Linked DNA regions of Homo sapiens. The protein of the gene in region 1 purifies or fractionates together with the protein of each later gene. This does not show direct contact. Each region holds a gene or a part of one and is shown in the gene's direction. Other genes may lie near its edges.

The links.
Region 2: the proteins of NUAK2 (region 1) and PPP1R12A purify together in Homo sapiens (affinity purification with mass spectrometry; 4 studies listed by BioGRID and IntAct, with this or other methods). This does not show direct contact.
Region 3: the proteins of NUAK2 (region 1) and FBXW11 purify together in Homo sapiens (co-immunoprecipitation; 4 studies listed by BioGRID and IntAct, with this or other methods). This does not show direct contact.
Region 4: the proteins of NUAK2 (region 1) and FLNC purify together in Homo sapiens (affinity purification with mass spectrometry; 2 studies listed by BioGRID and IntAct, with this or other methods). This does not show direct contact.

What each region holds. Positions count from the first base shown.
Region 1 is NC_000001.11:205,303,621-205,312,140, reverse strand, and holds part of NUAK2 (NUAK family SNF1-like kinase 2), read left to right. Parts: intron 1-315; coding exon 316-436; intron 437-3,408; coding exon 3,409-3,560; intron 3,561-3,910; coding exon 3,911-3,976; intron 3,977-5,833; coding exon 5,834-5,953; intron 5,954-6,601; exon of another isoform or gene 6,602-6,710; intron 6,711-6,809; coding exon 6,810-6,942; intron 6,943-7,627; coding exon 7,628-8,520. UniProt on the Homo sapiens protein: Stress-activated kinase involved in tolerance to glucose starvation. Induces cell-cell detachment by increasing F-actin conversion to G-actin. Expression is induced by CD95 or TNF-alpha, via NF-kappa-B.
Region 2 is NC_000012.12:79,791,507-79,800,026, reverse strand, and holds part of PPP1R12A (protein phosphatase 1 regulatory subunit 12A), read left to right. Parts: intron 1-1,442; coding exon 1,443-1,533; intron 1,534-2,631; coding exon 2,632-2,832; intron 2,833-3,076; coding exon 3,077-3,245; intron 3,246-4,267; coding exon 4,268-4,389; intron 4,390-6,098; coding exon 6,099-6,164; intron 6,165-8,520. UniProt on the Homo sapiens protein: Key regulator of protein phosphatase 1C (PPP1C). Mediates binding to myosin. As part of the PPP1C complex, involved in dephosphorylation of PLK1. Capable of inhibiting HIF1AN-dependent suppression of HIF1A activity.
Region 3 is NC_000005.10:171,860,225-171,864,334, reverse strand, and holds the end of FBXW11 (F-box/WD repeat-containing protein 11), read left to right. Parts: intron 1-233; 3' UTR 234-2,786; downstream 2,787-4,110.
Region 4 is NC_000007.14:128,825,314-128,834,500, forward strand, and holds the start of FLNC (filamin-C), read left to right. Parts: upstream 1-5,092; 5' UTR 5,093-5,324; coding exon 5,325-5,676; intron 5,677-9,187.

The sequences.
Region 1 (8,520 bases):
TTATAATTCATAACGCATCAGCCTTGCAAATGCAGGTTTTTACCTTCCTTGTCTATCTGTAGACTATGAATAAGGAGGTGACTTGTCGATATTCCTTCCTGCTGCATGGACCATGTGCACTCAGCTCAGGTGAGATCTTTTTCTAGAGAAAGTGCTCTCCAGCCTCTCTGCCACCTACACTGGTGAAGGATGGAGTGGCTTCTATGGGTGTACTCTGTGGCCTTTATAGCAGCTACAGGCAAACCACCAGGACCAGGGCCCCCAGAGTGTCCTCTGCCAAACCTTTCTCCTCACTCTCATGCCTTCTCTTCCCAGGTGGCCATCAAGTCAATCCGGAAGGACAAAATCAAAGATGAGCAAGATCTGATGCACATACGGAGGGAGATTGAGATCATGTCATCACTCAACCACCCTCACATCATTGCCATCCATGAAGGTACAGTGGGCACTTAAAGCTGGAACTTGGGGGTCTATGTGTGTGCATGTGTGTGTTCACATGCGTATGTACATGTGTCAGAAGAAACAACATAAAGAAGTAAAAAAAATATAGGCTCTAGAGAAGAGCAGGAGCTGGATTTGAAACTCAGCTGTATGACTTTGCACAACTCATTGAATTTAGTCTCTGGGCCTCAGTTCCTCATTTATAAAATGGGGTAATCCCATCTACATCACAGTGTGGTTGCAAAGATCAAACTGTTTATGTCATTGAATGCTCCACTCATGGGAGGTACTCAAGGAATTGCAGGTTTTTTTGTTGTTATAATTCGGTTTTCCCTACTTGAACACTACCTTCCCAACCCAGTGAGCTCCTTAGCAATCTGGGGGAGGCTGAAACATACATAGACCTGCACCTGTCTCAGGTGCGTGGGTGCTATTCTTCATGCGTCCCAAGAGCCAGACCTCCTAGAGTCTGACCTGGGCTCTGAATCATTCCTGCCACAGGGCTGGCTCCTACCTCTCCTTGTCTTTCTTGGCCTCCTCTTCTCTGACATCAGTGCTGATTTCACCACTCCAGCTGCCCTCCTCCCCATGACCCAGACAACAAAGTGAGCAAGAGAGGGTGACGAAGGAAAGATGGGGAGCCCTCTCTTACACACACCTGTCTGCGTCGAGACTTTACATAATATCAGTTAGATGAGAAGCGAGGGATAGCAACAGGAGGGAAGAAAGGGAGACTGTAACTCTGCCCTTTGTCTGTATATTCCTGGTGGGGAAAAAAATAGAGCAGTCTCTGCTCTTGGGTCGTGTTCATAGAAAGATTAAGGGTAGAGCCTTAAGGGTAGAGCCTTAAGACATAGCCCTGTGGCTTAAGCCTGTCCCATGAAGAGCCAGGCAAGTGGCTGAGAAGGCTAATTTTATCTCTGTGTGTGCTTCCCTCAGGGAAGAGTGGGGAGACAACAAAGTATTGGTTAAGCCAGGCTGAGTGTGGTGATTGGGGTGTGTGTGTGTATATATATGTGTGTGTGTGTATATGAATTCTGCCTTACACCCATATCTCCAGCTAGGCTGAGTGTGGTGATTGGTGTGTGTGTGTCTGCATGTGTGTGCGTGTGCATGTGTGTGTGAATTGTGCCTTACACTCATATCTCCAACTGGATCTGGGAACTGAGCACTGCAGCTCAGGGTATGGCTTCTCTGGCACCTTCAGATTCAACAGACATAAGAACATCATAGTTACTGTGTGTCTGGAGGGGCTCCCCCAAATTCATCCCCTTCCTGCTACTGGCTTCAAGGGATGTGAGGTAGCGGGTGTGCCTCAGTCCTGGGAAATGACATCTAACCTAGCTGTTCTCCAAAATGTGCCCTGGCTGGCTTTTGACTCCCGATTTTATGGCACAAAGGCTGCATGCACCCTTGCAGAGATGATGAGAGCCATAGGGGTGGAGTCTCAGCCAGGCATCCCCAGGAGGCTGGGCCTCCACAGATAAGGGCCATTTATTCCTGTCCCCCTGGACAAAAGGACAGTCCTCCTGGCCATGTATCCAATTCCCTGGAAGCTGGGACTCCTCTAGGGAGAAGGCTCTTCACTTCACTCCTTCTCAGAGCCTAGACAGCATTAGCTCTGGGGCAGGCCAAGCAAGCCAAACTCATAGGACCCGTTTGACACAAAGATGCAATGTCAGGGACATACATGTTCTAATACACACCAGGCAGAAGGGCCAGTTTGGTGAACCAGCCACTCCCTACCTAGTCTTCAAGTGGCAAGAGGGCCACTCCTACCCAGAGAGATGAGCCAGCTGGGATGAGGTGGCTGCCAGGAACCCAGCCAGTCAATTAATTACCAAATATGTATTGATTGCTTCTGTGTACAAGGCCTTATGCATGAGGCCCTGCCCTGGATCCTCTGGATGGAAGTCAGAGATGGTGATGGATATCTCAGCTCTCCCTGGTGCTTTATAGTTCATGATCCACTTTAATATACTTTTATTCCCTCTTCTGATCCTCAAGACAGACATTATTATTGGCCTTATTTTTCAAATGTATGCATGAGGGCACTGATTATAAACATAACTGTGGCCAGGCGCGGTGGCTCACGCCTGTAATCCCAGCACTTTGGGAGGCCGAGGCGGGCTGATCACATGGTCAGGAGTTCAAGACCAGCCTGGCCAACATGGTGAAACCCCGTCTCTACTAAAAAATACAAAAATTAGCCTGGCATGGTGGCGCGCACCTTTAATCCCTGCTACTCGAGAGGGTGAGGCAGGAGAATCGCTTGAGCCTGGGAGGTGGAGGTTGCAGTGAGCCGAGACCACGCCACTGCACTCCAGCCTAGGTGACAGAGCGAGACTCTGTCTCAATAAATAAAGAAATAACTGTAGGTACCATTTATCGAGTGCTTGTTTATATGTCAGACCTATACCAGCTTGCTCAGCCAGCCCTGGAACTGCTGTTGACTTTTTATATTTCTCACCCCAGCCCTGTGAGGTTGCCTTATTATCCTGCTTTTCAAATGAGGAAACTGAGGCACAGTGGTTTAATGACTTGTCCAAGATCACCCAGCAAACCTGCATTCTTACTCATGTATCTAGAAGAGATTTGCCCAAGGCCACAAGGTGAAAAAGTACCAGGTTCTTGAACCAAGGAGCCTGGCCTTTCATTCCCATCTAGTGACGTCTCTGCCTTCCTGAAAGGGCAGGGTCATTTTCAGAATTCCCAAAAGCCTGAACTTCCACGGAGGCAGAGGATGAGCCAGTGTCTTTGGCCTTAACTCATGGCTCCTGGAAGATGCTGAGAACTTCCAAGGCCCTTCTTCTGCCCTTATTTGCCACCGTATAGCCCCATTAGCAGATATTCCTGGAGGGGGGTCCTGTCTGGTTTGGGGCCTGGGGTCGGGGAGGAGTGAGTCACCCCCAGTGGAGAGCAGTGCACTCTGGGAGGGCCTGACGTTCCTTGCCTTGCTCTGCCCAGTGTTTGAGAACAGCAGCAAGATCGTGATCGTCATGGAGTATGCCAGCCGGGGCGACCTTTATGACTACATCAGCGAGCGGCAGCAGCTCAGTGAGCGCGAAGCTAGGCATTTCTTCCGGCAGATCGTCTCTGCCGTGCACTATTGCCATCAGGTGAGCACCTACCTGCTCCAGCCATATTCTCAGTGGGTGGTCCCCAGGGCTCTAGGGCTGTTTTGGACCAGAGAGGTTCCATGACTTGTCCAGGATCACACAGAAACAGAGGCAAAACTAGATTCTGGACTCTCAGGGAAATGTCAGTGTCTCTGACTTTGAGTCCCTTCTCCGCGGATAGAAGGGCCCGTGATTTCTTGCAGCACATACCGATAAAGATAGGCATTCCCAGCCTACCTGTGCTCAAGCCCACTTGGCTCCCTTTGTGTTTACCTCAGTCTCCAGACTGGGCCCCTCATCATCTTCCCTTCCCTGGTGACCTTCCCGTGACTGCCCTCTCCTTCTTTCAGAACAGAGTTGTCCACCGAGATCTCAAGCTGGAGAACATCCTCTTGGATGCCAATGGGAATATCAAGGTGAGTCCCACTTCTTATTTCTAGAAGCCTCCTTGCCCACCCCAGCTTTTCTGCACTGTCCCCAGCCAAGTAGCTCTAAGCTCTTGGTGGATTCCTGAAGGAGCTGAGCAAGGCTGACCTTCATTGGTACTGGTAGGGACCTCAGCCATCATCCATTCCAACACCTCATTGTGTGGATGGAGAGCTGGAGCCTCAGCTGAGGGGTGCTTTGCACAAGATCACACAACTAGCACGTGGCTGAGCCTGGACTAGAACCAAGATCTTCTGATTCCCAGATGAGTGCTCCTTTGATGTCATAAGGCTGACAGGAGTCTAGATCTAAGGTCAGGTTTGCTACAACCTTGGGACAGGCCCGGCCTGAGTTCTTCTCATGTATGTACACACTTGCATACACACACACATGCATGCTTTAATCTGGTACAATTAGATAGCCCTTTGGAAACTTCCCACAGATGAAGGACTCCAGCTCCAGCTTCCTGCTTTCTGCAGCTGCTAGATTTCCATGCTTAAGTAGTTAAATTTAGGCATGGAGAAGTTCATGTTGATGGGATAAACTGAGATCTCAGGGCTGGAGGAAGGACATGGCACAGGGAGGCTGGCCCCTGCAGGCATCTGGGAAGGTGACGCTGCACTCTGACCCTCTTCAGAATCTTCCTGAACCCAGGACATAGTCTCTTCCAGTGGCTTTTGACCTGTACCCTGAGGTGCCCTGGTACTGAGTTCATTCCCTCTTACCAGCCAATTCCCGGAGCAGGTGGGGCTTTCTTTGATGCTGAGCAGAAGGGAGGGAAGCCAGAGCCAGTAAACCCGCATAATCAGGCACAAACATGGACAGGCATGAACTTTCCTATCTGCACCAATCATGTGCTTCATTATGGGCTTCAACTGGTAACTGCTTGATAAGAGGCCAATAAAACCATAAACAAAGGAGCCAGAGTTTCATAAACAGCCCCTCCCCACCCTGAATACACATAACCCTCTGATGTGGTGAAGAGGTGGGGAGCACCAGGGCATGGCCTCAGCCTCTAACTGAGGATAGGTGGGAAAGGGTCTCTCCGGGCAACGAGACGATGGGGTTGGGTTCTCAAGCCCTCAATATCAGATGGTTCAGGGAGTCTTGGGCTGTAACCACAGCCCTGATGTTTGTTCTGCCCTCATTATTGCTTCTTAGCTATATTGGGCTGACCCCAGGTTCCTGCCACCAAGTTCTTGCCCCGGTGTGCACACAGGAATGAGCCCTTTGCTAGGAAGGGCAGCTCAAGTCTTACGTGGTTCATTGGTTATAGGGCTTGCTTGTTCCTGAGGGCCATGCCATTATCATGAGGTGCTGGCTTTCCCCCTCCATCTGGCTGACCCTCCTTTCCATCACTAAACATCATTAGAGCCTCATGCAGGGTCTCACCTGGGCTAGCAGCTGCAGGAGAGGTGGGGGCAAGGAGGTCAGCATGGGAGTGTACAGTCTGTCTGGAAGGCAGATCTAATGAGCAGGGGCTCCAGGGAGGCATTGGAAACTCTAGGCTTCTAGAAGGAGATGGGAGACTTTCCAAGGGATATGGGCATGAGACAGCATCTCTGTAGTGGAATGCCATGTGAGCAAAGTGGTCTGGGGAGCAGTGAGGATCCTGGAGCCCCCGCAAAGCTCTGTCTAGATGCTCCTTATTGACACAGCTCCTCAGGGTTCGTTCTTCCAGGGCCTGAGCTATGCTGACAGTGCTCAGTGTGGGGTAAGGGTCATGGGGACCCTTTCCTTCTATTGGAGCTTGGGTTTCCCCAGGGTCTGGAGAAGGGCGGGCCAAGAGCTGCAGAAAAACCCAGGCCTTGACATGACCTGTGCCCGTGTTTGACTCAATCCTGCAGATTGCTGACTTCGGTCTCTCCAACCTCTACCATCAAGGCAAGTTCCTGCAGACATTCTGTGGGAGCCCCCTCTATGCCTCGCCAGAGATTGTCAATGGGAAGCCCTACACAGGCCCAGAGGTAAGTGGCCACCCTCCCCTGCCAGCCTGCCTCAGATGTTTACTATGACTTTAGATCCTGGGAGATTGATGGGCTAGTTTTCTCGTTATTCACATTTTCAGAGCACAACTCTCAAGCCTCCCAAAAAGTAGTAACTTGCCAGGTGTCTAGCCAGGAATGGCAAAACTAGAACTAGGCCGGGCACAGTGGCTCACACCTATAATCCCAGCACTTTGGGAGGCCGAGGTGGGTGGATCACTTGAGGTCAGGAGTTCGAGACTAGCCTGGCCAATGTGGTGAAACCCCATCTTTACTTAAAAAAATATAAAATTAATGGGGCTTTGTGGCACCCACCTGTAATCCCAGTTACTTGGGAGGCTGAGGCAGGAGAATCACTTGAACCTGGGAGGCAGAGGTTGCAGTGAGCCAGGATCATGCCACTGCACTCCAGTCTGGGCAACAGAGCAAGACTCCATCTCAAACAAACAAACAAACAAAAACCAAAAAAACCCCTAGAACTAGAACTTAGGTCTCCTGACTCCTAGGTTAGTTCTTTGCCTCCCTCACATTCCTCATTCCTGTTACCTTTCCCAGCACCCAGTCCAGCCTCCTGAGAGTGATGTAGAGATGATATCTGTCACAACCACCCCTTCCCCAGCCCGGAAGAGATGACCTGGCTGTAGCTCTTGTGCTTGTGGCTGTCCCTCGCAGGAAATGCGATTGACAACATCTCAGACCCCTTCTGCAGCATCCCCGTCTTGGCCCCTGGGTAGGAGAGGTGGGTCGTCCTCAGGTGTGCTGGCCTCTGAGTTCTCCAGCATGTAACATTTTCCTGTCTGGTATGGGCATCCCTGCTGACCTCCCCCATCTCTCTCAGGTGGACAGCTGGTCCCTGGGTGTTCTCCTCTACATCCTGGTGCATGGCACCATGCCCTTTGATGGGCATGACCATAAGATCCTAGTGAAACAGATCAGCAACGGGGCCTACCGGGAGCCACCTAAACCCTCTGGTGAGTAAGAGGTGTGGGCGTTCTTATCCAGGCCTGGGGTGTCCTTCACTCATTCCTAAGGCAGAAACTACACAGTGGCACTAAAGTCAAACGGGCAACAGTCCATCATGGCCCATGGTAGGTTAGGGTACCCTCCACCGTATGTCCAATGTTGAGACCTCTGGGGAAGGAGGGGATAGCTCTTTCTTTCCCACAGGGGCATGTTTGATTATATTTGGGAAGTGGTTCCTAAGGTCTCACTTAGATCTTCTTTGCTACAGTTGTCTCATTTCCTATTGCTTTTGTTCTCATCTTCAGAAATCTTTTTGTCCTTCACTATGACTCAGAAGGCAGGAAGAAGGGTGTGAGAGACCCAGTTTACCCTGAACACAGTCTCTACCCTCAGAGGGTTGAATTTCAATGGAGAGAGAGAGGATAGACACCAACATACACACAAGGGCTTATGAAGGGGTCACAGTCCTGAGGGGTCAGAGGACAGAGAGGCAGCTGGAGGAGTCAGTCCAGGAACTCTGGACTGGGGAGCTGTCCTGGGCCAAGGCATGTATAGAGCCCTAGGTTGGAAGGGACGCATCCGACCCAGGAGTATGCAGTGTCATAGCTCAAAAGGGGATGAGCTGGGGACAGGGGACAGGGAGTGCCTATTCTGGGAGCTGCCAAACTGAAGCACCTGCCTTTTGTCTTCCAGATGCCTGTGGCCTGATCCGGTGGCTGTTGATGGTGAACCCCACCCGCCGGGCCACCCTGGAGGATGTGGCCAGTCACTGGTGGGTCAACTGGGGCTACGCCACCCGAGTGGGAGAGCAGGAGGCTCCGCATGAGGGTGGGCACCCTGGCAGTGACTCTGCCCGCGCCTCCATGGCTGACTGGCTCCGGCGTTCCTCCCGCCCCCTCCTGGAGAATGGGGCCAAGGTGTGCAGCTTCTTCAAGCAGCATGCACCTGGTGGGGGAAGCACCACCCCTGGCCTGGAGCGCCAGCATTCGCTCAAGAAGTCCCGCAAGGAGAATGACATGGCCCAGTCTCTCCACAGTGACACGGCTGATGACACTGCCCATCGCCCTGGCAAGAGCAACCTCAAGCTGCCAAAGGGCATTCTCAAGAAGAAGGTGTCAGCCTCTGCAGAAGGGGTACAGGAGGACCCTCCGGAGCTCAGCCCAATCCCTGCGAGCCCAGGGCAGGCTGCCCCCCTGCTCCCCAAGAAGGGCATTCTCAAGAAGCCCCGACAGCGCGAGTCTGGCTACTACTCCTCTCCCGAGCCCAGTGAATCTGGGGAGCTCTTGGACGCAGGCGACGTGTTTGTGAGTGGGGATCCCAAGGAGCAGAAGCCTCCGCAAGCTTCAGGGCTGCTCCTCCATCGCAAAGGCATCCTCAAACTCAATGGCAAGTTCTCCCAGACAGCCTTGGAGCTCGCGGCCCCCACCACCTTCGGCTCCCTGGATGAACTCGCCCCACCTCGCCCCCTGGCCCGGGCCAGCCGACCCTCAGGGGCTGTGAGCGAGGACAGCATCCTGTCCTCTGAGTCCTTTGACCAGCTGGACTTGCCTGAACGGCTCCCAGAGCCCCCACTGCGGGGCTGTGTG
Region 2 (8,520 bases), on another chromosome or scaffold:
CTCTTTAATTATTTAACTTTTTTTTTTGAGTCTCAATTCTGTCACCCACGCTGCGGGGTGGTACAATCTCAGCTCACTGCAGCCTTGATCTCCAGGCTCAGGTGATCCTCTCATCTCAGCCTCCCGAGTAACTGGGAGTACAGGCATGTGCCACATGCCTGGCTAATTTTTCTATTTTTTTGTAGCGACAGGTTTCCTCATGTTTCCCAGGCTGGGCTCGAATTCCTGGGCTCAAGCAATCAGCCTGCTTCAGCCTTCCAATGTGCTGGAATTACAGGCATGACCCACCACACCCAGCCCTACTTAACTTTTGACACAGATTACTTGCTATTGAAAAGGTGCATACCCCGTGACAAGAGGAAACATAGGCTTAAATTTATAAGAAGAAATTTAGTGAGGATAAATGCCAAGTCCTGTTCTTTATATCAGAAAATCAGTTACTTAGAAGTAACATGCTGATTTAAAAGCTGTTTATATATAAAAAAACACTGGAATTTTTTAGAGCACTCAAAAGTATGAACAATAATATGTTGTCTGACGTGTCATTAGTAAGAGCACACTGACAAGAATGCAGGGAGACCGGGCGCGGTGGCCCACGCCTTTAATCCCAACACCCTCTGAGGTCGAGACAGGCAGATCACTTGAGGTCAGGAGTTCGAGACCAGCCTGGCCAACATGGATGAAACCCCATCTCCACTAAAAATAAAAAAATTAGTCGGGCGTGGTGGTATGTGCAGGTAGTCCCAGCTACTCAGGAGGCTGAGGTGAGAGAATCACTTGAACCCGGGAGGCAGAGGTTACAGTGAGCTGAGATCGCGCCACTGCACTCCAGCCTGGGCGACAGAGCGAGACTTTGTCTCAAAAAAAAACAAAACAAACAAAAAAAAGATTTAGAAAGGAATTTGATACCTGTCTTCCAATATTTGAAAATACTGTAGGTAGAGAATAATTTAAAACCCCTTTTAGTAGGTCATTAAGTAAGATGCTTAGATTATCACTTTTGGGGGATGTTTTCAGGGCTGGAGAAGAGGACCTTCCTCAGTTAAAAACAGACAAAAAATTTACTCCTTATCCATTCTGCTTAATTGGGCTAAATGAAATCCTTCTATTTTTTTCAATAGAGCTAAAATTTTTAATCTTCAGTTCTCTAAATCCTTTTTAAAAATGTGGTTCCATCTTAAAATTAAATTACATTATTTTAAAAAATGTAGTTAGGAAGTTAAAATGTGATGTTAAAATATAATTATTAAAATATAACTAGTTCCAATCTAAAAAGAAATTATAAGATTGCATTATTGAATTTCAAAGACCATTTTCTGAAGACTTTTCCTTAAAACTTACTAAGATATTAAACCTGTATGTTTTATTCATATGCATTGATAGATATTTACATTCACAGGTATTGTATTTACAACTAACGATTTTTCAATTTACTACTGTAGATCATACCTCACTCCTGTTAGGGATGAAGAGTCTGAATCCCAAAGAAAAGCAAGATCTAGACAAGCAAGACAATCTAGAAGATCAACACAGGTATAGTTAATGTAATTAATATATAAAACTTACATAAGTAGCATATAAAATATATATACACACACTGACATAAAACAAGTTACCTTTCTCTTTTTCACTTTGTTGTGAAAATATTGATGTCAGTATATAGTGTGAGTAAATCCTTAAAAGGTAAAGGTTGCTGTAGTTATTCTAGTAATTCTAGTGTGAATAAATCCTTAAAAGGTAAAGGTTGCTCATAGCCTTTTGTATGGTTACACTGCTACTATTGTATTTCATCTAATTAGCATATGCCTTTGTGTCTTTTTGAGTATTTTTTAAATCCTTATTCCTAATACAGTGTCTGGCCCAGAGTATTTGGTTAGAATAAATTAATCATATGATGTCTAATAAGTATTTAAAAGTTCTATGAATATTTGGAAATCGGGGGCAGAGAATAGGCTCGTATATTAGGTATAAACAACTAATATGCAAGTATGAAGAAAATGTCATTCAGGCTGGCGATCTCCTTACCTCCGTTTTGCCATTCTGATTATGCTGTATATGATGTATACTTTTGTGTCTTTCTGCTTTCCCACAGTTAAGAAGCTCCACAGTCCAGATTCAGCTGTCTATCCTTACCATTACTTAGCTTTCAAGCTGAACTATTTGCTAGGGCCTTAATATACTTTTTCTGTCTTTATACTTTTCACTTCTTGAAATCTAACCTGTTCTTCAAGGTCAAATCTTGAAAAATTTATCGAAATCTCTTTTAAGCCTTAACAATCATCATGCATGTGTATATAGATACATATACACACATATATATACACACACACAGACATATATATAAACATAAATATTTATAATATACAAACAGTACAGATACTGGCTATTCTTCTCTAGTTTGAACTTGTGGGGAACATTTATATGCATAGAGTATCCAGTACCTATCGTTGTGCTTGCTAATGGTGATTCTTCATAGAATGAATGTAACTTGCTGTTTCCATTTGCAAACCAATTTTAAACATGCATATTTGACTTTTAATGCATTTGTATGTAATATATCTATTTCTAAAATATTCCTTGAAACAAGCTTTAATGCATCTCATAATTATATTGATCTTTTTGTGTGTGCAGGGAGTGACATTAACTGATCTTCAAGAAGCTGAGAAAACAATAGGAAGAAGTCGTTCTACCCGAACCAGAGAACAAGAAAATGAAGAAAAAGAAAAAGAGGAAAAAGAGAAACAAGATAAAGAGAAACAAGAAGAAAAGAAGGAGTCAGAAACATCTAGAGAAGATGAATATAAACAAAAGTACTCCAGAACGTATGATGAGGTAACAGTATATCAAAAGCACATTTAAGTCAAATGGTATGAATAGTCCTTATGATCCTTAACATACAAGAGATTTATATACCAACAAACCATATGCAAAATACTGTAAAGGATTTTAGCTGGAAATTTGAATTACTTTGGCGTGATTAGTATACTACTTTTTCTTTGAAATGAATTTTTAAGTATTTTTATGTTTTTAATTGTGTTTAATGTTTCAAATGGGTTTTGATCTTAATGTTTCACAGACTTACCAGCGTTATAGGCCAGTATCAACTTCAAGTTCAACCACTCCATCCTCTTCACTTTCTACTATGAGCAGTTCACTGTATGCTTCAAGTCAACTAAACAGGCCAAATAGTCTTGTAGGCATAACTTCTGCTTACTCCAGAGGAATAACAAAAGAAAATGAAAGAGGTAAGAATACCAAATTTTGAAAACACTTTGCTTTCTTCATATAATCCTTTGGATTAGGGTTTCCTAAATAATAATTCAACAGTAAAGGAACAGCATCCTAACTTGTGATTCATCGAACCTAAACAGAAAGAATATGAAGGTTGAGAATGAGAAAAGTAGAAAACAGAAATAGAATATGGCCTGCTGTTGATACTAATATTTTTATAACCTAATACTTCACAAAAATCTTCATGTCCACCTACAACGAAAAGTTAATATCGAACTGGTGGGTGACTATTTCTAGAAGCAGTTTACTAGTGTAGTACTTCTCAGATGCTTTAAGCTATTTCTTGCCTACTGTGTAGATCATATCATTTAAATGTTTTTTTGTGAAATTGTTGTAAACTAAAATTACTAACTACATGTAATGCTCTCACTAAAACACATTTTTATGCTTATTTCTTAAAAAATACATTTCTTTCTCAACTATATATTGGCATATTGATACTCATTACCATTTCCTATTATTTTATATAAACTTTCTATTTAAATTCTGAGTAATTCCTACTTTAAATCAGATATAAGTACTAAATATAGGCATTTCATATTTTAAAGCCTAAATCTTACAGTATTAGTCATGATAATATCAGTAGTAATGTAGAATAAACAGCAGAAAATAAAGTTTTTTCCCAATTTCCAGCTATATATTTTCTCATGTTGATCATTGAGATGTTTCAGTTCTTTAAACTTCTATGTGTGAGGCCTGCATTGTGTTTGTAAAAATGTTGAACCAACATTTAAAATTAGAGATACTCACTTCAAACTTCAGATTTTTGCCATTTCTTGAAAAGTTGGCTGACCTGGCAACACTGGATCTGAATTCTCACATACCAACAATTGGCTGGAGCTAAGTAGTAGCAGCTGCCTACCTTCCATCCCCCTAGATAGTCCCCTGGCCCATTTTACCCATTGTTTTTACAATTACCTTGCAAAATATTGTCAAGATATATTGCTATATTGTGGTTCATTGCAATCCTTAACAGAGGGAGAAAAAAGAGAAGAGGAGAAAGAAGGAGAAGATAAATCACAACCTAAATCAATCAGAGAACGACGACGACCAAGAGAGAAAAGAAGATCTACAGGAGTTTCATTTTGGACACAAGATGTGAGAACCTATTAAAATACATTATTTGATAGTATTCTTGATAGTATTCTTAATGTGTCCAAAAATACATACTAATAATTTCTTATATGCCTTAGATTTCATATTCCTTAAATCATCACTGTGTTTTCTGAGTTGTTAAATAAGAAAAATTATTTTTAAGGATAGTTAACTACTTAGATTGTTGGTACTACTTAAAAGGAGTGGTTCTGACCTAATTATGGAATAGAAATAATAATGTCTGAAGCTCAGAGTGCATGTATTGATTATTTTATAATAGGTAAACTGCTTCTTGTAAAAACATCTTTTAAGAATTTCTAAGGAGTCTATTTAATTTCATTTTCATAAATATCATTATAAGATCTACATTACAGATTACTTCCATCTCAAAGCATGCTAAATAGACACAGTGCTTTGCTTATCAAATTACAACAGTCTTGTAAAAATTAGTGTTTTCCTGGTCCTTGATTGTAGGCCTGACATTGCTATTCATTGATTTTGTTTCCATTTTCTAAAAAATAAACCTTTTATTGAAGTATGGCATGTTTAGAAACATAATTCATACATGTATAGCTTAATGGATTAGCACAATAGGAGCATATCTATGTAATCACCACTCAGAATGATGAATAAAAACAGCAGTGTAGATTGCCCCCATGTTCTCCCTCTCAATCCCTATCATCCTCATTTTCAAAGTCAGCTAGTATCCTGATTTCTAACACCGTAGTTAACTATGCCTGTTTTTGAAGAGCATATGACTAGAACTATAAATTTTATAACTGTTATGTTTATAAGATATATCTATGCTATTTTATGTAGCAGTACATTTACTTCTATTGTTATAAAAATATTTTTTAAAGAAAATTTCTAACTATTCTTTCACTGAAAGAACATGGAATCATCTGTCTTCCTGTTAAACTGACCCATCTCTCACTATATGTTCCTCTTTATCTCTAATATTATATCTGACCTTAAATTCTGCTTTTTTGAAAAGCTTCCTTTTGATTATCTTTGTATAATATATCTTTTCTGTTATTTTCAATTTATTTGTGTTTTTTTTAATAAACAACATATTTAGGTCAACTTTTTTCTGAACTTTTTTTTAATTGCAGTGTTTCAGTCCATTTTAATTTTACTTAATTACTAATTACTTAATTACATGAAACAAATAACATTGTCATTTGCAGTTTAAAATATATAAAGAGCTAAGGCATATGAAAACAATAGCACAAAAATATGGGAAAGTATTAAATGGAGTTGAAGAGTTTTAGTATCTTCGCATTGTCCATGCTGTGGACAAAATATATATTCAACTTGATGAATCAAGAGTGCATATGTCTATTTAAAAAAGTTTAAAAAGAGAGGGAAAATCATACATAAATGACAAAGAAGGGAAGAACAGATGGGGAAATCGGAAAATAGTTTTCTATTTTTCTTTTGATTTTTAATATAGAAAAGTTAAACATATACTTTATAGAAGTAACATAATAGTATAATGAGCCCTACCCCCAGTATTCATTTTTTCAGCTAAATTCCCACTCCATCTCCCAACTCCCATATTATTTAGAAGAAAATCCTAGACATCTCATTCTATCTACAAATGTCTCAATGTATATTCTGAGAGAGAAGGACTCCCAAAAATAATTTTAAAAAATAAATTTTGAAATTATTACTAAAATTTCCTAAAATATAAATTGGCAATCTGTTTTTAGAGTGATGAAAATGAACAAGAACAACAATCAGACACAGAAGAGGGATCCAATAAGAAAGAAACTCAGGTAAATACCATTACTTTTTGTATTGAGAAGTATTCATATTTTTTAATAATTACTTTTAAATTGCGTTTTATTATGTTTATTCATGCAAAGCAGTTATTGCATACTCTACCTACATGCTGGGTATGCAATATCAGTGTTTGCCTGGGGATCAGGATTAAAAGGACTGGGAAGGGTCACAAAATAATGTTTTGGAGGTGATGAAAATGTTCTGAGTCTTGATCCTAGCAGTGGTTTTATGGATATACAGAACTGCCAAAACTCACCAAATTGTACACTCTAAGTGGATGTAATTTAATGTATGTCATTTAACCTTCGGAGTTAAAAGAAAAAGCAAAAAAAGAAATAGTACCCTTGGCCAAAGGAAAATATCTAAAGGATAATCAGAAGTAGTGGAAATCCAGAAGTAGTAGGCTCAGATTTTATTTCTGTAGATTTTATTTCAAAGTTATGTTCTGGAGAATATAGGCATCTTTTAACTTTCTTTTACATATATTTAGAAATTTAGAGTCTCCAACAGATTTTTATGTTGAGAATCTAAAAGACATTTTTTTCCTCTCAGTACTGATGAAGGACCTAAAGCAAGTTTGAATGACAAGGCTGCACAGCCAGCAAGGGTTGAAAGTTCCCCCGACCCCCTTCCTGATTGTTTGGCTGTGTAGAAAGCTAAAAAATATTCAAAATATTTCTGTTCATATGAGGATAGAGCTGAACAACACGAGTCTAAACCTGGCACTGTCTAGCATGAAATAGCATTCTGGTCATATTAATATTATTTTCTTCATTTTGAGTTGAAGTTCCTTAATAGAGCTATTACATTTCTTTTTAGTCAGCAAGGATCTACAGTAATGTGAACAAAAGTTGGTTACCTGTGCTAGGTGACGGTGAACATTATTTTAGGGCCAAGTTTGCCTATTTTGACCCCACAATTTTATTTTATCTTTAGGTGGCCAGACAATGAGGAGTGAATTGGTTCTGAGGTTAAATTATTTGCAGGCCTAAAGCTTTAACTGTTACCTAAATTTTTTGGTTATCAGTTATCAGAACTCCCCAATTTACCTATGTCCCTTCTTTATTAAACAAGAGGGGAGGAAATTAGTAAACCATCCCCATCTGACACCTCTCATTGCCTTATCACGCAGACTCCAGCCCCCACCAGGCTGGAGTGGAAGGGAGATTGTCTGGCTTTTAAAGTTGTAATTTTGAAGCATATTGATGTATACTGTATTTTAAGTTTTACTGTTAAAATCATATGAGATACGTTAAGATGAAGAGGAACATTGTTTCTAAGACGAAAAGTTTTTTTATTTTCAATTTAAGTAGTTTTTGTTTACTTTAGATTGTTTAGAGTTCTTTTAAAGTAATGAATAACATATAAATAAATATAACAAATATAAATAACAATATGAAACCTAAGTCAAACTGGATTAAACAAAGAAAATGTATTGTACTCCAGTTATATTCTGCAGTCCTTTGTGTCAGCTTCATCCTCAGGCTGATGTACCTCATAGGGATAGGATTATAGTTGGCTTAGGATAGACAGGGCCTATCACTGAACTGTTGCAGCCATTTTGCTACCAACATGGGCCATGTGTCATCTCACCTAAACCTAGTAACTGCTATACCATGAGAAAAAGGAAGAATGGATGTAGATAAATAAATAAGGTGCAATGTATGTGCATAGATCAATATTTTCTATATTCACATAGATATTATGTGTCCAGAAAAGGTTGGTTAGATAACAGTGGTTATCTAGAGAATGGAGGGATGAGGAATTACACAGGAACTTTGTATACCATTATGTGAACTTTACAATACCATAGTCAGAAAGATATTTCTGAATATCTTTCTATATATTTTAATCTTTTTTATCTTTAAAAAGATATTTTTACTTTGGAAAATTAATCTTAAAATTTGGGGAACAAGGGCGTTATGCTAAATGAAATAAGCAAGTTACAAAAAGACAAGAACTGTGTGATTCCACTTATTTTATTTGGGTATCATAGAAACAGAAAGTAGAACCTTTGTTGCCAGAGCTAGGAAGAGGAGGACAAAGGAAGTTGTTCATTGGATATAGAGTTTTATTTTTGCAAGATGAAAAAGTTCTAGCGATCTTTTGCACAACAATATGAATATAATTAAAAATACTGAACTATATACTCTAAAAAATGGTTTACATGGTAAATTTTATATTACGTGGTTTTTACCACAATTCTTAAAAGTTTTTAAATAATGCTAGGCCGGGCATGGTGGCTCACACCTATAAGCCCAACACTCTGGGAGGCTGAGGTGGGAGGACTGCTTGAGCCCAGGAGTTCAAGACCAACCTGGGCAACATAGGGAGACACTGTCTCCACAG
Region 3 (4,110 bases), on another chromosome or scaffold:
CTCTTATTTGTGAAGCAGGTGTCATAATAGTTTCTTCCTCACAGGATTGTTGTGAGGTTGAAATAAATGTGATACCTGGTATGTAGTACACTCAGAACAACTTACAGCTTCTGCTGTTAATGCTAATAAGTTTTGCATGTAGCTGTGTGCAGGGGGTGGAGTGGAGTGTGTGTATTCTCATCTAAACGGAATGTTCACCCACACTCCCTTTGCTTCTGTTTTTCTTTCCTCAGGGTTTTCTAGTCTTGAACTACTGGCTACGTGGCTACCAAATGCCTAAGGGAGTTCGTTCACAGCTGAGTTATGAAGCTGGAATTGGTTCTAGACGCTGGGTAGATGCAAAGCAGCCTAACTCTTCAAGTACCGACATTTCTCACCTCTGATTCCGGCTCTCCTTTGAGAAGGAGACCTTAGCTTCCCCGGCTTCAAGTAGAACAGAAGCCCGTTTCCTTCCCTCATCAGTGAAAAAATCTAATGTTTCAAATGTAAATTGTTCATAGAAAAGGAACATAGAATCTGTTTTACAGAAGTAAATCGACCGTCAAGAGAAGACTTGGCCTCTAATTTATATTGCTTTGCACTTTGGTTTGATATTAAGAAACAGCATTCTTCTTCAGTGAAATTTTGGGTGCCAAACACCTACCCAGAATGTCCAGGGCTTTCATTTTCAAAAGTTAGCATTCTCCTTTTGACCGTCCAAGTCATTATGAATTCTGACTTGTTGTATTAGGAACATGTTGGACAGTGGAAAATTTTCTCTGGATTGTTTTAGTAATATTTTTGGGATTATACTTCCTTTCTGTACCAATTTCTTTTAATTTAAAGAACTATAAGTCAGTTATATTATCTACCAACAGGTAATATAGCTCTTTCTTTTATTAACTGTTCTCTGTCCCCCAACCATCTCCTGATATTTGGTAGAGTAACACCTTTATACGTGTGCTTGCCTCCTAATTTAAAATACTGTATTCGCATGTAGATATAATGTACATAACAGTTTAACCTCAAAGTTGCTGGAGTCAGGGCCCCCTGTGCTTGAGACACTAATACAGAGTGTGTTCGCACTTAGCCATGGGCTGGGCTCAAGAACCTGATACCTGGGTTGATGTGGATTACCTAGAACCCTTCCTGCAGTATTCATACAGTGTTTTTATTTTGTTGTTGTCATTGCGTGTGTGTGGTTTGTGTGTGTTTTTAATGAGAATCTTGTTTTAAAATGTAATTTCTAAGGTTTAACACCAAAATGTTTTATTTGTTGTGGAGTATATATTATACAATAGAGAGGTACCTTAAACATTTTTTGTTCTTATTCTTTTTCTCATAAGTACTCCTGAGTACAAGTGGTCACCTCCCATAGTATTCATTTGGCTTCGCTGTCAAAAATCATTATTCTGTGCAGTCGTGGCCCTGGGAAGGGGAAATAAGAAGGCCCTGTTGACGGGCTGTCTTGGCTCTGGAATTCATGCATCCTGGCCTTGCCAAGGTTCTGGCAGGGCCTGCTGGTGTGTTGGAGCCTGCAGGGCAGGTCAGGCTGGTTCAGAGGCCCATGCTGAGGGGTGGGTGCTCTGAAGTGGAGTGAAGCCTCAAGCCCATGAATGCCACCCCAGTCATCTCTGGTGTCAGCTGCTGCTGTGGCCCCAGCAGGTTCTCAAAGCTCCCAAGTCCTCCCTACGACACAGCCCAAATGTGTAAATGGCACTGTTGCCCTGACAGTGCATGGAAAGGACGTTGGCATCCAATTGGCACTCCTTCTCCCTTATTCAATATTAGGTTTGATTTGCCCTTCGCCATTGTTTCCAAAGATCAAGGAATGTCAATAACATTTTAAAGGACCAATAAACAGCCTCCTATAAAGTAAACCTCTTCCCGTGGAAGCACACTCTACTACTAAAGGGAAGGCCCTGGGCTCTGATTTGTCCTTTGCATTGAGAACGGTGTGGGGATCAGTGTGTGTGTATGTGATTTGTTTATTGAGTTGGCTTTGCTTTTTTAGTTTTTCTTTTAAAAATAAAATCCTTCCTTCCCATGTTACTAAATTAATTTATGTTTTTGAGAGGTTGAGTCTCAAAGTGTAAACAATAAACCTCCATTCATAAGGTGGATGTTGTAAGCTTGATGGTGGTTGTGAAAGTGATTTAGCTTTGACCACTTTTCATCCTACAGCTTCAATATCAAACTGGTTAGGAAAGCCCAGGGGGAAGGGAGGGGGCAGGGGAGGAGGCAATTCTGAATGAATGAATGGATTTTTTGTTGTTTTTGCATGTTTAATATAGAAGTTCCCCTCGTTCCTTGGGAGATGATGGCCTTTGAATATGCAGACAACCTTTGAATTGTGCCTACTAAATTATAGCAGGGGACTTTGGCACCCAAGGAGTTCTGACTTTCTGGGATTATAATAGTAATTCCCAGCCATACTCTGGACTTTATTTTGCTAACCATAACTGAGCAAATGTAAATTACTGCTATATTAATGTTTTAAAGCACTGGGATAGTCTAATTCTAACTTGTAATTAATTATGTTTGCCAATTATCTGTTTGAAATAAATTTGTGTCTGAACAGCTATTGAAACTGTTAAATTGTACAGATATTATTCATGACAGCTTTGTACTGTGGAATGTGCTTAATAAAAAACAAAAAAGTTTGACTTTTGTCCAGTAAATTGCTAAGTAATGTCAATAAATCGAGTATGGGTATTATGCAGTGCACCTAATCTGGCTTCATGCAATTGTTACTTCAGCTACTGATTCAAAGCCAATACTCTTAATAAAGTGTTGCAATACTCTGACGTTCTGTTAAGAAATTTTTCAAAGAAACTGTTAAGTGCTGTTAGGAATTCAGTGACATACAATTAAAATTTATAGATCTTTAGAATCATCTGTTCTGTAAAATGAGTTTGAAGGCAAACTGGTTTTGGCGTGTGAGAATGTTGTAGTAGATGATATGATTCCTTGTCTTGGGCTTTTGCCGAAAGCTAGCTTGAACTTCAGGAGTTAGCTGAGGGCTAGCTAAGAACTCTTGCCCTGCAAATCTGCTTCCCACACATAATTAATTGCTTCACAAGTTACTGTCAACATGAAAATGGCCTCTGAGACATCCCAAGTGGCTTTCAGGTGTGAGTGGATCCTCCCCTTCTTGAAGAAGGGCCATGGAGGTGTGAGGGGCAGTTTCGCAGCCCTCTCCACCATAGCATCAGAAATGAATAGTTTTGTGTGTGCAAGTGTGTCACTGGTAGAGTATTGAAGCAGAAAAAGTCGAGTTAGTATCTGTAGGATTCTACTCAGAAATTCTATTCAGTAGGACTGAGTAGAAGCTGAGTTTTTTTGATAGCTAGGCTAAACTTCCCCCATTAGTCAACCCAGTTGGTAATGCGGACTTTTTGCATGAGATTAGAGTATTTCTATGTAATTGTTCCCACCCGTTTTTCTTGTAGAAAACGTTTTTCAAATGTGTCATGCATGTGGTTAAGAGAACCAATTTACAAATCACAAAAAGATAAGAGTAAAAAGTAATTTTTCCTCTCCCCCTTAACCCCCAGTCCCTCAAATGATGGTTAACCAGTTTCTTTCATGTCCTTCAATAGATACCCTCTTTTCTATACACAGCTTGCTCTTCCAGCCGGTGAAGACTCTGGGAGCTTGTCTTGTAGTGCTAAGATATTGGGGCTCCTGCTGGCTTGTTGCACAGAGCTGAATCCAACACTTTGTAGGCACTCAGTCAGCATCTGTGGGATGACTGAGTATATGGCCATCTCAAGGTGTTTACCTGCCCACAGATAGGACGACGGACCCCATACACCAAATGCACTAATTCAGTAATTTAAAAATTATATTGGTTAGGTGTAGCCATGTGAAAGATTTGTAGGGCAGGTCATAAGTAACTTTTTCTTAGTGCGTGCCAGGTAAACTGGAAAGTAGAATCCTATAAATGAGATTGTACATTATTTTCAGCTTTGTGGTCATCTGCTTATCCTTTCTCTAGGAATTGTTTGATTTTATTGCTCAGAGTATGTGAGTTATTACTGGACTGGCCTGGGAGAACCTGGAAATTACAAGGCCAAAGACTTGAGTGGGGACAGATTTAGGAACAGCTTAAACTTGATGTTCTGGTGA
Region 4 (9,187 bases), on another chromosome or scaffold:
TGACAGGAATGTGGGCCTGCTTTTCCCACTTTTTTGCTTAGACTACAAAACCCCTCCCTTTAGGACATGTCCTTCTCTGTTCATTTCATTGATTAATTGATTGATTGATTGAGACAGGGTCTGGCTTTGTTGCCCAGGCTGGAGTGCACTCGTGCAATTTCGGCTCACTGCAACCTCCACCTTCCAGGCTCAAGCCATCCTCCCACCTCAGTTTCCAGAGTAGCTGGGACTACAGGTGCTCACCACCGCGCACAGCTAATTTTTGTATTTTTTGCAGAAATGGGGTTTTGCCATGTTGCCCAGGCTGCTCCAAACTCCTGAGCTCAAGTGAATCGCCCGCCTCGGCCTCCCAAAGTGCTGGGATTACAGGTGTGAGCCACTGCACCCGGCCCTCCGTTCATTTTAGAATCCCATTCTCTTCATTTGGTTTGGACTGTCTCCTTGTCTTAATGATACACTGTTACCCAGGCGTATTAAAGAGGAATCTTTTTTTTTTTAAGAGGAATCTTTTTTGTTGAATGTGAAACATTCACTTGAGCTAGCTTAAAAAAAAGGCAGTAGGATATTCTCATTTATAAGTGGAGTTAAAGCCGGGCGCAGTGGTTCACGCCTGTAATCCCAGCACTTTGAGAGGCCAAGGTGGGTGGATCACAAGGTCAGGAGTTCAAGACAAGCCTGGTCAACATGAGGAAACCCCGTCTCTACTAAAAATACAAAAATTAGCTGGGCGTGGTGGCAGGTGCCTGTAATCCTAGCTACTCGGGAGGCTGAGGCAGGAGAATCGCTTGAACCTAGGAGGTGGAGGTTGCAGTGAGCCAAGATTGTGCCACTGCACTCCAGCCTGGGTGACAGAGCAAGACTCCGTCTTTAAAAAAAAAATGTGGAGTTAAAGAATGTGTATAATGTGCACACAGGGACATAGAATGTGAACTGATGGACATTGGAGACTTTGGAGCGGCGAGGGGTAGGGGGGCGGTCGGGGCATGGGGCGAGGGGAGGGATGAGAAATTACTTAATGGGTACAATGTACATTATTTGGGTGATGTTACACTAGAAGCCCAGACTTCACACTAAGCAATATATCCATGTATCAAAACTGCACTTGCACCCTCTAAATTTATACCAAAAAAAAAAAAGACAGGAGGGATTGATCTTAAGTCTGGAGGGGTATGCCTTGGAAGCCACAGGCAGGCGTGCACTTGGGCCTAGGTGTGCTAGAACCAGGGACTCAAAGCACCTTCAGGAGCCTCCATCTCTCCCCGCTGCTGCCCTCTGCATAACTGCCTCCTTTCTGTGAGCTCCCTGCAGCCTAGCCCTGTCTGGTTTCCCTTCCCAGGCCAAGAGGTAGAGCAGCCACCCGCTGCCACTCCTGTCAAGGACCAGCTGCTTTTGGGGCAGGGTGGGTGGTTCTAAAGATGACAGGTACTGCCGGTTCTGATTGTGGCAGAGGGAATGTTGGGTTGCAGGGAAGGGGAGAGGGGAACAGCCTGGAGATCCAGGCAGTGGTCCCCACGGAGGTGTGGACACAGAGCTGCAGGGGAAGGCCTCTCTCACCAGAACCCCTTAGTCTCCAAGATAATCAGAGGAAGCAAACTAATTGTTTTGGATCACCTATTAGATGCCAGGCACCATGCTAATCATCTTTCTTGTGATTTCCTTCCATTTTCACACATTAAAAAAAAAAAAAGACGAGAAAACAGGCCCAAAAGAGCTACATTACTTGCCCAAGGTTGCAGAGCTAGAAGTAGAGAGGCTGGAATTCAGCCCATGGATCATTCCACTCTACCACACTGTCCCTGGAACCTGGGTCAGAGCCACAGTCAGTATCAGTATCACTGAAAGTGCCTGTTATGACCTGGCCAGCCCAGTATCATCACAGGTGACTGTGGAAATGTCCCTGGTTCCAGAAAAACAGGATTTTCAAACATGGCTCATTGTATCCGCTCACTTGGATTCAGCTCAGCCCAAGATAAATATGGCCAGTATTGGTGGCTGATGAGCAGAGCCCCTTGACGGCAGAGGCAGGACCAGGTGAAGAGCCAGGCAACCTGGTCTCCTGAGATAGGTCAGCAGGTGGTGAGTCAGGGGGCTATAAACAGCCTGTGGCCCCAGCCAGCACTGCCCAGATACTCAGCTGATGAAACCCCTTGTAACCCCCTGTGTGCCCCTGCCTGGCTTGGGGAGGAGCATGTCAGCGCTCCTCGGGGAGGGGGCCCTACTTGGCAGGCCGGGCCCAGCATTGTGCACGGTCTGTTCCAGCCTGGCTGGCCAGGCCCAGGGCCTGGGCTCATGGGCTATATTGAGGGCTGAGTCACCAGCCCGCGCCTGGGTCAGGCTGAGTGTCACTGGCTGCTGGGGCCTGAGTCAGGCCCCGATTTATCCTGGAGAGCAACAGGCTCAGGTTTCTGAGGACGGTTGCGGGGGGTGACGGGAATCATCCTTTGGCACTCTGTACCCTCCTCTCCTCTGCCAACCATTCACTTGATCCCCTGGGACCCGCACACTGACCTCCCCTGGAGCGAGCTCTTGAGTCAGAGGGAAAGCAAGGGAAGCTACGCTGGGAGTTCCTTCTCCCCTCCCTGGCTTCCTCCGGCCTCTCCACCTGAACAGAGGCGCTCAGCTGGCTGGGGGACCTCAGATAATGCCTGCAAAACAGGACTGTGGACCATTAGGGTCTGTAAAGGGGCTGTCAGCTCCGAGCTACCTCACCTTAACCCTTTCTCCTCCCCAGCAGCTCAAAGAGGAATGCATCCTTTCTCAGATCTGTGTCTCAGTTTACTCACCAGGGATTCAGAGGCAGCACTGCTGAACCCTGAGCCCTTGGCACATCAGGTTGGCTGTCAGAAGTCGGCCTTTGTACATACACAGTTCCCTTGTGAGGCCCAGCTGCGTGTCCTAGGAGCGGGGCCTCTCTCCACAGCAGAGCTCAGCCTCTCAAGTGTATGGACAGCACGGGTGCCTGATGGGTGGATTTAGCCATGAGTTGAAGGTGGCTTGGGGAGAATGAGAGTTCTAGAGATAGGGAGAAGGGGTTGCCAATAGGAGAGTGGAATTCCTGAGCACCTCGTCACAGGCAGCCGACAGAACATGAGCCGCAGGGCCCAGGCTATTTATACCTCGCCTGTCACTATCAGGGTCCCCACAGCTCCCCCCACCTCCAGCCACACACAGCAGGTCCTTTTGCTCTTTCTGGTCCCTTCTCTACTCCTCCCCCTCCCTACCTAAGGACCAGGCAATTTCATTCATAGACCCCTGTCATCATAAGCATTGCCCCCACAGAACCCTGACACTTTTTCCTCAGCTCCGTAACAGGGGGTGCCCTCATTGGCCCTTGGGGGAAAGAGCCCCCAAAGATGCTCACTATCCCTTCTTTTACACCAGGTCTAGGGGTAGAAGAGGAATTAGATATAATGATTCATCTAAAAGGGCCCAGAACCTTCCCTGGCTTAAAGAAACTTCTCAGGCTCAGATATGGCCTCCTAGCCAGCTCAGCTAGACTTACTAGGTCTAGAAGGATGGGAAAGCTGAAGACACATGGCTTGAAAAAGGGGGAACTGGGAGATATGGCTGCACGTATGTTACAAAGTTGCAGAATGGATCCTCTCCTTATAGAAATACATTCTCTAGGCCCAGCACGGTGGCTCACGCCTGTAATCCCAGCACTTTGGGAGGCTGAGGCGTGCAGATCACCTGAGGTCGGGAGTTCGAGACCAGCCTGACCAACATGGAGAAACCCCGTTTCTACTAAAAATACAAAATTAGCTGGGCGTGGTGGTGCATGCCTGTAATCCCAGCTATTTGGGAGGCTAAGGCAGGAGAATTGCTTGAACCTGGGAGACAGAGGTTGCGGTGAGCAGAGATCATGCCATTGCACTCCAGCCTGGGTAACAAGAGCAAAACTCCATCTCAAAAAAAAAAAAAAAAAAAAAAGAAAAAAGAAAAAGAAATACGTTCTCTAGCTCTTTCTCCTCACCCCAGGCCAGAGTCTGTTTGGGTGCCTCGGTTTCCCTGCTGTTCTATTCCCCAGGCCTGCAGCCTTTGGCTTGCCCTGAGTGCAGCTTTGCCTGGGCATCCCAGCTGGCTCCCTTAGGCTCTCCCTGACCACTCTGCCCCTGGTCCTGCCTACCCACCTGGTCACATTTCCCCCTGGCTGCTCTGGCTGGGGCTCTCCCTGTTTCTGCCTGGCTGACCCACCCTTTCCCTGGCAGGATCTGCCCTGTGGCCCAAATGGGCATGTTGCCCAGGGGGCTCCCTGGCACTATGGGGGAAGAGTCTCTCCTTCCCCTCTTATCATCTCAGTTGAGTCAGACTTGGGGGAGGGGGATACACAGTGTGAGTCACTGGGTACCCTTTTCCTGAGCTCAGCTTCATACCGAGGCGATGAGGCCAAACGGGCTGGTGACAGGGACACTGAGTCAGGGGCAGGGGCCCCGGTCTTACTCCTGGGCCTCTGGATTTGGGCCCTACATGAGGCTTTTCTATCTGTAAAGTCAAGCAATGGCTGGGAGGCACACACAACCCCCCGCCCCCCCGCAGGCTTCTCCTTCATTGGCCCGGGCAAGGTCCCTGCTTCCTCTCAGGCCGTCTCTGCACAAGCACACACACTTCCCTTCCCTGTCCACAGGTGGACAATGCCCTGGGCTAGGAGCCAGCCCTCGCAGGCCCTGTCAACAGCCTGCCACCAACTAGTCTAGAAAATTCTGTGAACACCAGATCAGTGGGTTTTGCCCTAATCACTGGCCTCAGTTTCCCCATTTACCTCTTCAGCCCGTGCGGGGTGTGGAGGGAGCATATTTCATTCCTGACAGTTTGGTGTGTTGGGTGTGGATGGAGAACTGTCGGCCCTCCCCGCCACCTTCCAGCGCGGCGGCACCGGGGGCCCAGGGGGTGGGCGCCCTCAACCCCGTCCCGCCGCCCGGGCGGCGCGGGGGAGGGGCGGCGGGGGCGGGGCGTCCTGTGCGGCGCGGCCCCCACCCGCGGGCCGGGCGGCATTCCTGGGAGGCCGGCGCTCTGACGTGGACCCGGGGGCCGCGGGCGCGGCGGGGGGGCGGCGGTCCGGGGGCTTCTTAAACCCCCCGCCCCGGCCCAGCCCGCCCTTCCCGAGCACCGCTCCGGCCCTGGAGGGAGAGAGAGCCAGAGAGCGGCCGAGCGCCTAGGAGGCCCGCCGAGCCTCGCCGAGCCCCGCCAGCCCCGGCGCGAGAGAAGTTGGAGAGGAGAGCAGCGCAGCGCAGCGAGTCCCGTGGTCGCGCCCCAACAGCGCCCGACAGCCCCCGATAGCCCAAACCGCGGCCCTAGCCCCGGCCGCACCCCCAGCCCGCGCCAGCATGATGAACAACAGCGGCTACTCAGACGCCGGCCTCGGCCTGGGCGATGAGACAGACGAGATGCCGTCCACGGAGAAGGACCTGGCGGAGGACGCGCCGTGGAAGAAGATCCAGCAGAACACATTCACGCGCTGGTGCAATGAGCACCTCAAGTGCGTGGGCAAGCGCCTGACCGACCTGCAGCGCGACCTCAGCGACGGGCTCCGGCTCATCGCGCTGCTCGAGGTGCTCAGCCAGAAGCGCATGTACCGCAAGTTCCATCCGCGCCCCAACTTCCGCCAAATGAAGCTGGAGAACGTGTCCGTGGCCCTCGAGTTCCTCGAGCGCGAGCACATCAAGCTCGTGTCCATAGGTCAGTGCCGGGGGCGAGGGCACGGGCGCTGCGGGGATAGGGTCGTCCCATGGGGCAGGGGCACAGGTGCGGGGTGGGCGCGCGGGGAGCTGAGAGACAGGGCGGAGGGCACCCCCCGGTATAGAGAGAAGACCCTGGCCCCGGCCCTCCCACCCATCGACAAGGGCCATGGGCACTGCCTGCACACCCCTCTGGGGACAGCGAGCACTCCCTGGGTGCCCCGGGGAGTCCAGGCCTTAGGGTTTGCGAGCCCTCCAGCTGCCGCCTCCCCATGCACATTCCCACCTCCCGCCTCGGCTCACCGTTCCCTTTCCTTCCATCGGGCAACCCTAGCCCACACTCGGGAGGACAGAACCAGTGCCTGTCACTGATTCCTGGGGGCATCTCCCCGCCCCCAACAAAACAAGTGGCTTCCCAGCTTCACAGCCCCTCCGCGGGCTGGGAGAGGGCTGAAGACAGGTCCCCAACCACTGCCCGCGTCTGCGGGCTCTGGGGCCGAGGGGAGCTGGCGCGGGAGGCCCTCTTCGTGCATGTGCTCAGCAGCTGGGTTCAGGCCCGGGGGCCAGGACAGGCAGGGCCCAGCCTCAGAAACCTAAAAAGGCACTGAGCGAGCGCGGGGAGACTTAACCCCTGTCTGTCCTCCTCCTGCTTCAGCCTGCGGTGGAGGGGGCTTCCGCAAGTCCAGGCCCTGCCCCAGCCCACCCCCTACCGCGGGATTGGCTGCAGCTAACGGTCTGGGCTGCGGGGAGGGAGGGAAAGGCCTGTGGAAGGGAGGAAGTCTTTGAGTGTAACCAGATTTGGAAGGTGTGTAGTGCAGGGTGGGGGCGGGGAGGCACTCTAGTCTTGGGAGCAGAGACGCCAAGGGTGGGCTTGGAGTGGCAGGAGGCTGTCCTGCCCTCAGAGTCCTGCAGTCATCCCTGAGGCTGGGGGCCTGGGGAAGATCCCCCCGCCCACCCCTGTGGAGAGCTCTTAAGAACCCTGCTGGGATTTGCAGGACGAGGTCCTTGGACGGTGCACCCCACGGCCCCAGGAGGGGAGTTTCATGTGGGGCCAGGTGGGCCCCACACAGGATGTTCCCTGAGATTTCTCCAGATGACTTGATGTCTGTCAGCCCCACTCTCCCTTGGGGCCATCTCTAGGCCTCCTGATATAGCAGCTGAGGTCAGCCCAGGGCCCTTTGCCCCGTCCAGTCCCCTCCCTAGCCCTTACCCCCTCCTGCCCCAATACTGCCCCCCCACCCCACCCGCCTGCCCTGTCCTGGAAATAGCCCTGCCTCCGTGACACAGCAGATGTCTCTGAGCTTTCCAGAAGGACAAGGCTGAGGGCAGGGGGTGGGGGAGGGAGCCTGGAGTGTGTAGTGAGACTGAGGGCTACGTGATGGAGGCTGAGGGGTCAGAGAGGAGTCAGTCCTGGGCCGGCATCCTCAGCAGGCTGGGTTTTGAAAGGCAGGACTGACTGTACCAGGTGGGGTCTGGGGGAAGAGCCGGAGGCTTCGGCAAGACATATAGGAAACCGCTCAGCCTTCCCCTCCCCTCCAGTCTGCGGGGGCTCTCGGCCCCTCTCCAGGCCTCGTCCTTCCTGAGCACACCTCTCCCCTCCCCCGTGGCGGTGCCTGGCTCCAGCCCCCTTGGCTCAGCAGAGGAGGGGCTGGCTCAGAGCAGAGGGGAAGAAGCAAAAGCTGGTTTGAGGGTGGGAGGGAAGCTCCCTGGTTCCCGCTGGGAGGAAGGGGAGGCAGTCCCCATTTGGGCCAAGTGGCTCACTGGCGCTGATGAGATAAGCTGTCAGCAATTCAGCTGCCGGCCCCAGGCTGAGGCTGGAGGGGAGGGGACACCGGCAGCGACCAGCTGGGGCGCCCCACCATGAGGAGGTTCAAAGGGGCTGCCCACGAGGCAGGGGCATCCTGCTTCTGCTAGCTCCCCTACTCCATTTAGTGGTGGAAAGGGGCTATCCATGGGGCCACCTTCTGAGTATTGTCTCAGCACCGAAATCGAGCATCTGGGCACCTCAGGGGGTGTCAGAAAGACTCCCCACTTCTCTTTCCAGGAGGGAAGTCAGGGTCTGGAGTAGCAGCTGGGATCCAAGCCCACCTGAAGAAGGGGCACTGAGCCCAGGTTAAAGGAGCTGTGCCCTTCATATCCTCACCACCTTGTCCTGGCCCCCCGTTGCCCCTCGTTCCCTCCGAACAAAGAGGCCTATGAGGCAGCTCTGTCTCGCAGCTGTTCCCCAGTTGCTATTCCTTCTCCTGGAGCCAACAACCAAGGGAGGGGCGGGAGGGGGCAGCAGCTGTCCCAGCACCTCCCTAGGCCCAGCCCTCTCCTCCCCCTCCATTTGAGGCCTGGGGTGGCCTCGGGAACTAGCTGTCTGGCTCCTCCCACTCCTTTGGGGGTATCCCTAGGCAGATGGAGAAGTGGCTTGGTGAGCCCTGGTGGCGCTGAGCTCCTCTCCTCTGCCTGGCCTCCGAGAGGGAGGAGGGAGAGGGAGGTCATTGCTTCCAGAGTGGGACTTGGGGCCCCACTGCCCTTCTCCTGCCCCAAGCCTGGACCACTTGCTGTCTGGCCCAGGGCCAGTTGCTGGGGAGAAACTTCCCTCTCCAGCAAATATGAATGACCACCCTCCCCATATACACACCGCCCCCCCCAACCCCTGCAGCCTCAAGGCTTCCTGCCCAGGGGTCTGGCTCCAGTTTGCAAGAAGTACTTCTGGGCGTGTGAGCTTTGGAGGCTGTCGGGGTTGTGAGAGGCTGGGGGCACTGGGGCATCCAGACTGTGTGAAAGTGTTGGAGCCTGTGTGTTTGAGAGAAAGCACCGGGAGGCAGGGAGTGAGTGTGTCATGGAATCTGAAAGCTGCCAAACCATTGTGCTGCAGTGGAGCCAGGGGAAGGGGGTGGGCTGGGGAGCTGCTGGGGAAGGAAGGATGAATCAGTGACAGGGTGGGGGAGCCCAGGCGGCCAGAGCCCCAGCCAGAGGGACAGGGAGACTGAGGCACCCCTCCCGGGGCAGGTGGGAGTGGGGCAGGGGATGCCCTGGATTTCCCAGGCTCTCGGTCTCCTAACACTTTCCCCAAGACCTGGGGAAGGGTGGAGGGGAGAAGATGTGTAAGGGGAAGGCTCCACTCCACCCTCTCCCATCTCTCGGGCAACATCAGTAAACAAGACTGTCTTCCACCCCCTTCCAGCCTCCTGAAAGCAGTGCTTTGGGAAGCTGATAGATTTCAGAACTTCATTGCCCTTTACAAGTAAGCTGAATTCCAAAGATCTATCTACATGCTAGGCCACCCCAGGCTTCTGGATATTTCTTTCTGATTGTTAAGGGGGATCTAGGCGCCCCCCCCCCCCAAATCTTGAGGAACCAGTTCTGGCTCAAAGGATTCCTCAAAGGAGGTGATGGGTGGAGTGTGTCAGCTCCTGAGGCTGGAGTCCCTCTGGCCCCCAGCCTTTGACAACATGACTTTCAAGACTTAACTGAGAATGTACTGGACCCCACCCACCCACCCCTGCCCCACTATCAGAACC